Linked DNA regions of Homo sapiens. The protein of the gene in region 1 purifies or fractionates together with the protein of each later gene. This does not show direct contact. Each region holds a gene or a part of one and is shown in the gene's direction. Other genes may lie near its edges.

Evidence for each region.
Region 2: the proteins of RELCH (region 1) and TTC4 fractionate together in Homo sapiens (co-fractionation; one large-scale study listed by BioGRID). This does not show direct contact.

The regions. Positions count from the first base shown.
Region 1 is NC_000018.10:62,259,972-62,264,007, forward strand, and holds part of RELCH (RAB11-binding protein RELCH), read left to right. Parts: intron 1-1,539; coding exon 1,540-1,687; intron 1,688-4,017; coding exon 4,018-4,036. UniProt on the Homo sapiens protein: Regulates intracellular cholesterol distribution from recycling endosomes to the trans-Golgi network through interactions with RAB11 and OSBP.
Region 2 is NC_000001.11:54,736,361-54,739,860, forward strand, and holds part of TTC4 (tetratricopeptide repeat protein 4), read left to right. Parts: intron 1-1,221; coding exon 1,222-1,304; intron 1,305-3,500.

The DNA.
Region 1 (4,036 bases):
TACGTTGGTCTGAGCAAAGATTTTTGAAGAAAGATCTCAAAAGCATAGGCAACAAAGCAAAAATAGACAAATGGGATTATATTAAAGTAAAAAGCTTCCGCGCAGCAAAGGAATCAGCAGAGTGAACAAACAGCCTACAGAATGGGAGAAAATATTTGCAAACTCTCCATCCAACAAGGGATTAATAACCAAAATATGTAAGGATTCAAACAACTCAACAGCAAAAAAAAAAAATCCAATTAAGGAATGGGCAAATGATCTGAATAAACACTTCTCAAAAGAAGACATATGGCCAAAAGTTATATGAAGAAGTGTTTAACATCACTAATCATCAGGTAAATGCAAATCTAAACCAAAATGAAGTATCATGTCACCCCAGTTGAAATGACTATTATTAAAAAGACAAAAAAAAAAAAAAAGATGCTGGTCAAGGTGTGGAGAAAGGGGAACCTTCGTACACTGTTGGTAGGAATGTAAATTAGTACAGCCACTATGGAAAACAGTGTGGAAGTTCCTCACAAAACTAAAAACAGAAATACCTGTAATCCACCAATCCCACCACTGGGTATATATCTAAAAGAAAGGAAGTCAGTATATTGAAAAGATATATACTTTCAAGGACTTACATGTTGAGTTTCAAGCACTCACATATTTCTTACAGCACTATTCATAATAGTCAGGATATAGAATCAACCTAAGTGTCCATCAGTAGATGAATAGATAAAGAAAATATGGTATATATAAACAATGGAATATTATTCAGCCATTAAAAAAAGAATGCTATCCTGTCGTTTGCTGCAGCAGGTAGCCTAGAGGACATTATGTTAAGTGAAATAAACCAGGCACAGAAAGACAAATATTGAATGTTCTCACTCACATGTGGGAGCTTAAACAGTTGATCTCAAGGAGGTAAAGAATGAAATGGACCAGAAGCTGGGGTCTGGGGGAGTAATGAACAGAAAAATACAGTTAGATAGAAGAAATACATTCTAGTGTTTGATAGCACAGTAGGGTGACCATAGTTAACAATAATGTGTTATATATTTGAAAAATAGCTAGAAGAGAAAATTTGGAATGTTCCTAACACAAAGAAATGATACACGTTCGAGGTGATGCATATCTCAATACCTTGATTCAATCATTACACATTGTATGCCTGTATCAAAATATCTCATGGTACCCCGTAATATGTACAATTATTTATGTATCAATTCTAACAAGAAAAAAGATAAAGTGATTCCTGTCCCTTACTTTAATTTCTTTACCCTGTCTTATAAAATTTCAAAAGATAAGACCTTCTCTAATGAAAAAGTAAAATTACAAAAACTATTCCCTACAAATGGAAATGACTGATGTTTACCCTATAGTTTTCCATGTAAAAGATTCTACCACTCTAGAGTGCCTTACTGCTTGTTTGAGTCCAACATAAAGGTCCTTAAATCTTTGATTTGCCACAGTAAGGAAGAACATCATACATAAATCCAATTAGCAATGTAACTTCAAAAGACTAAAATTAGCTTCCACCTCCTTATGTTTCAGGAAGGAGAACATGGACTGGATGAACACAAACTCCACATGTATCTTTCTGCCTTGCAGTCCTTGATCCCATCTCTCTTTGCATTAGTGCTACAGAATGCACCTTTCTCCAGCAAAGCCAAGCTTCATGGTGAAGTGCCACAGATAGAAGGTACTGAACTTAAATTCTGGAAGAAAAATGTAGAATATTAGCAGCCTAGCTTCCCAAAGAATTGTTTTTTATTAAAAGTCTAAAAATCACTTTATATGACAGCATAATTTTTAAAATGTATTATGTGTGTAGAATCTCATGGTCATAAGATTATACGTATGGTAAACAATATGGCTTCATCTTTTATGGATAAGCCCCATTGTCTTATTTTATAATACTTATACTTTCTTGTTGCTCTTAATCTATAGCCTTTTTATAGCCTTTCTGGGGAGGCTGAAATAAATATTTCCTTCCGTTAATAGATCTGAGTCAACAAAAGATTCTTTTAATAGTTACTAGTGCCAGTATATGAAGCTTGTCATTTCTGCTTTCTTTATATTTTCTTCCCCAACTTTTTAATTTTATTTTTAATAGAGGAAGGTAAATATAATTACTTTTTTCTACTATGTCCTTGATAGAAAGAAATATAAAAGCATCTGTGGCAGAATTTGTGTTTTTCCAAAGAAGAAATGTGACTTACTTTCAGAAGTACATAAAATTGACAGGAGAGGCCAGTATTTTCTTATCTTACTCTCCGAGTAGCTAGTAAATGACCTTTGAAACTTGACAGGCAATTGATAACCCTGTTGCACCTTAACGTCCAGGACAAATGGCTATAGACAAGCTATTGCTATGTATCAGGCACCTTTGCAGCCTTTTCAGAGTTGTGAAATTATCCATGTCTCTTACTGGTGTCTAATGGACAAAGAATTATAACATTGAGAACATCAACAGACAATCTTCTTGAATTTCATTTTTCATGTAAACTGTAGGCTACCTATAATATTTGGAGTATGATGCAGTGTGTCCAAAGATACATGAAGCCACATGATAAAAATAGTGTATACTATTTGGATGTCAGTTTTATTTGGAAAATTGAGAATGAATGGTGTGGAGTTAATTTAACATTTTTAAATTGAGGAGAATGAAAATTCAGACTTTAGATAAGACTTCATAAAGCTCTCCCAGCTGGCCACTTCAGGTTCTACCCCTTTACTCTTACTCATTTAGGCATTTCATCTGCCTAGGGATTTTCCTATCTTTCTAATTCCCTTTTTCTTTTTAGCTTTCTGTATTCGTTTACTATGGCTGCCTTAACAAAGGACCACCAACTGAGTGGCTTAAACAACAGAAATTTATTATCTCACACTTCTGAATTTTAGAAGTCTGAGATCAAGGTGTTGGCAGGGTAGTCTTAGGGAAACTGCGAGGTAAAGGCTGTTCTGGGCTCTCCCCTGGCTTCTGGTGGTTTGCTGGCACTCTTTAGTGTTTCTTGGCTTTTAGATGCATCACCCCAAACCTTGCCTTTATCTTCACGTGGCACACTTTCTGTGTGCTTGTTTCTGTGTCCAGATTTTCCCTTCTTATAAGGACATCGGTTGTGTTGGATAAGCGACTACTTCAGTATGATTTCATCTTGTCTAACTACATCTACAGCAACCCTATTTCCAAATAAGATCCCATTCTGAGATACTATAGGTTAGGACTTAAACATAAAAATTTGGGCGGGGGGCAGTTCAACTCATAATACTTGTTATCATTCTCTCATTTATTTAACAAATGATTCTTAAATGTCATCTATTGCCAAGCATATGCTGGAGATTAGATAGAACAGTATCATCCTGAACATATCCTTCTAATACTTATGGGATTCCCTTCTAACATTTATGTGACCTTTTCTTGTGATTGTCCTTTATTTTTCATTCTTGTTGACTTAGTTTAACTTTCTGACTTTTAACAGTAGCTATAAATGTTAATGTTACTATACCTTCATTTAGGTTATAATGTATTTATTATAAATAAGGATTTATTATATCCTTATTTAGGGTATATCCATATGTCTATATGTCCGTTTATATATACACACACATAAAATTTGGGTTATAATTTGTTATGAATGAAGATTTGTTTTCTCATAAAAATGGTAACCCACACAAATATTTTTAGTACCAATTTATTACACAACATGAACAAATATTTATGTCAGGCATTGTTTTAGACACTTAGGACACAATCATGAATAAAATAGATAAAAATTTCTGCTCATAGAGCTTACATTCTGCTGTGGGAATAAAATCTTTTGAGATTTGTTGGATTTGTTCTCATATCACAGGAATTTCTTGATTTTCCTAAAAATGACTTAATTAGTGTATTTCAATTTTATATTTAAAATTTACAATAAGAAAGTAATTAAATATGAGGAGAAAGGACCTTATTTTCCTTTCAACAGAATATCTAAGTTCCCAAAATGCCAATTTCCATATGATTTATTTTGCTTCTTTTATGTGTAGTGACTAGGTTTCCTCGGCC
Region 2 (3,500 bases), on another chromosome or scaffold:
TTGTTCTTTTTTTGTTTTTGTTTTTTTGAGACAGAGTCTAGCTGTGTTGCCCAGGCTGGAGTGCGGTAGGGAGATCTTGGCTCACTGCCAAGATCAACCTCCTGGGCTCAAACAATCCTCCCACCTCAGTCTCCCAAGTAGCTGGGACCACAGGCGTTTGCCACCGTGCCCAACTAATTTTTGTATTTTTAGTAGAGATGAGGTTTCACCATGTTGCCCAGGCTGGTCTTGAATTCCTGGACTCAAGTGATCCACCTGCCTCAGCCTCCCAAGTGTTCAGATTACAGGCATAAGCCACCATGCCTGGCCTGACTTTATTATTCTTAATATAGTTATTTGTTTGATCAGTTCCCCTCCTGTCATCACCACTGGCCCCTCTCCTATGTGGAGCCTTCCTCACCCTACTTGGACTCTTGACTCCACATGTTACGCTGCTGCCCCAGCGTGGGCGTCTTTCTCACCCCGCACAGACTCTGACATCCCACACTGCTCAACGACCCTACATGGACATCCTCCTCATCCTGCTTGGGCTCTGACACCCTACAGCAGGCCACCCCCTGCCATGAGTGGTCACCCTCCTCACCCTAGTTGGGCCTGTAAACTCCATATTACTTGTCCCCATGCATGGATACCCTTTTCACCCCACATGGCCTCTGACACCCCACCTTGGACAGCCATCTTACAAGGGAGCACTTCTTCCCCTGCTCAGGCCTGCTGGCCCCCAGCATGGATGCTCTTCTTCACTGGTCCTGCTCTGACACCCCCGGGAGCTTCCTGTGCAGGCGTCTTCCTCACCCTGCTTGGGCTTTGACACCCTGCACAGACATCCTTCTCTCCTTCTTCAGGCTCTTTCCTTCTCTGAGCCACCATAGCTTTCTCCTCCACATACCTGATGGCTTTAGTCTGATTTGTTAGGGAAAGGAGGGCTACATAGGCCTGGCCTTGAGTCTTGATTCTTCTGTTTACCAGCAGGGTAATGTTGGCAAGTTGTTGTTCTTCTCTGAGCCTTGATTCTGTCTTTGGAAGATGGAACTGATAATAGCCTCTTTTACAGTGGCATGGCGGGGGGGTACTAAATGCAAAGCACCCAGCTACACAACCATATAAAGGAGGCATTCAACTACTAACCGTTGCCATCTTTTTAATTTTCCCTGGGCTTAGCCTCAACTAAGGCTGCCGAAGCCTTTATCTCTGACTCTTGCCCTTCTGTTAATCTTGCAGGTCTACTTTGAGGATGAGGACAGGGCAGAACTATACCGGGTGCCTGCCAAGAGCACCTTGCTACAGGTTCTACAGCACCAGAGGTGAGTCATCTCATGGCGCTGAGTAGATTGGGGAAGATGCTCAGTGTATTAGTCCATTTTCACACTGCTGATAAAGACATACCTGAGACTGGTCAGTTTATAAAGAAAAGAGGTTTAGTGGAGAACTCACAGTTCCACGTGGCTGGGGATGCCTCACAATCATGGCAGAAGGCAAGGAGGAGCAAGTCACCTCTTACGTGGATGGCGGAAGGCAAAAAGAGAGAGCTTGTGCAGGAAAACTCCCTTTTTTTTTGAGATGGAGTTTTGCTCTTGTCGCCCAGGCTGGAGTGCAATGGTGTGATCTCGGCTCACTGCAACCTCCACCTCCCAGGTTCAAGCAATTCTCCTGCCTCAGCCTCCTGAGTAGTTGGGATTATAGGCACCTGCCACCACGCCCGGCTAACTTTTGTATTTTTAGTAGAGACGGGGTTTCACCATGTTGGCCAGGCTGGTCTTGAACTCCTGACCTCAGGTAATCCACCTGCCTTGGCCTCCCAAAGTGCTGGGATTACAGGCATGAGCCACCACTCCCGGTCAAAAACTCCCATTTTTCAAAGCATCAGATCTCGTGAGACTTAGTCGCTATCACGAGAACAGCACAGGCAAGACATACCCCCATGATTCAGTCATCTCCCACCGGGTCCCTCCCACAACACATGGGAATCATGGGAGCTACAAGATGAGATTTGGTTGGGGATACAGAGCCAAACCATATCACTCAGGCACCATCCGAGGAGTAGAGCCAGGTTCTCATTCCGCTGCTGACTGATTGCCTCATACTCCCCTCCCTTCTGCCCTGAGCACAGAGCTGTGTGAGACAGCAGCCATGGAGACTGGCCGGGCCCATAAAACTCAGCCATTGGTCAAACAGGCTCCAGTGTGATGATAGCCCACTGCACCACAGCCATAACACTCCAGACCAGGGGAGATAAATAGGACTGGTCTTTGAAGGGAAAAGCTGCCTGGCTTTTTGTACATGAAGGCTGCTAGGATGGCCTTTTTTTTTTTTTTGAGACGACATCTCGCTCTGTCACCCAGGCTGGAGTGCAGTGGTGCGATCTTGGCTCACTGCAACCTCTACCTCACCCCCCAGGTTGAAGTGATTCTCCTGCCTCAGCTTCCTGAGTAGCTGGGATTACAGGCGCCTGCCACCATGCCTGGCTAATTTTTGTATTTTTAGTAGAGACGGGGTTTCACCATGTTGTCCAGGCTGGTCTCAAACTCCTGACCTCAGGTGATCCACTCACCTCGGTCTTCCAAAGTGCTGGGATTACAGGCGAGCCACTGCACCCGGCCAGCCTTCCTTTTCCTAATCGTACCTATACCTATGTCTCCTGATGCTCTTTCTTTTGTTTGCTTTTTCTTATTTTGAATTTTTTTTTTTTTAAATAGAGATGGGGTTTTACCATGTTGGCCAGGCTGGTCTTGAACTCCTGGGCTCAAGCAATCCACCCACCTCAGCCTCCGAAAGTGCTGAGATTACAGATGTGAGCCACCACACCCAGCCCCTAAAATTTTTTTTTAAATTATTTTTATAATAGAGACAGGGTATCTTCTCCAGGCTGGTCTTGAACTGGGTTCAAGCAGTCCTCCTGCCTCACCCTCCCAGGTAGCTGGAATATCAAGTGCATGCCAGTGACCCGGCTCCTGATACTGTCATATGAAGAAAGCATTGGCTCTTGAAGTCAGACCCATCATCATTTACTGGCTGTGTGACTCCAAGCACACGCTGCCTCTCTGGGACTGCCGCCTCATCTCTGGAATGGGAGTAATACATGCCTACACATTTCTCAAGTATTTGAGAGCCAATGACAGGATAGGAGTTGAAGTGCTGTTGTAAACTGCACAGGGCAGTCCTGCTATAGGAGGGCATCTTTGTCATTAGCAGTGGCAGCAAGTTGGATTTGGCAGTTGTCTCAGAGAAGCTGTGAGGTGTTCCTGGACTATAAGGGAAAGCCCTCAGCAGATTTGCAAATTGACTCTTGGACTACTTTTCCTTAAGCTTTGAGCAAAGCAAAGCAGAGAAAAGCAGATGCTTTTGCACTTAAGCTAAAAGAGCCCAATGTATTAGTGTAAAGAGAGTGGTTGGATGTGGTAGGAAATGAGGCTAGAAAGCTAAGTTAGGGCCATACACGAAGGCCTGAATGCCCTGCTAAGGAGCGTAAACTTTATCCTGATTGTGGTGTACACCAGGGT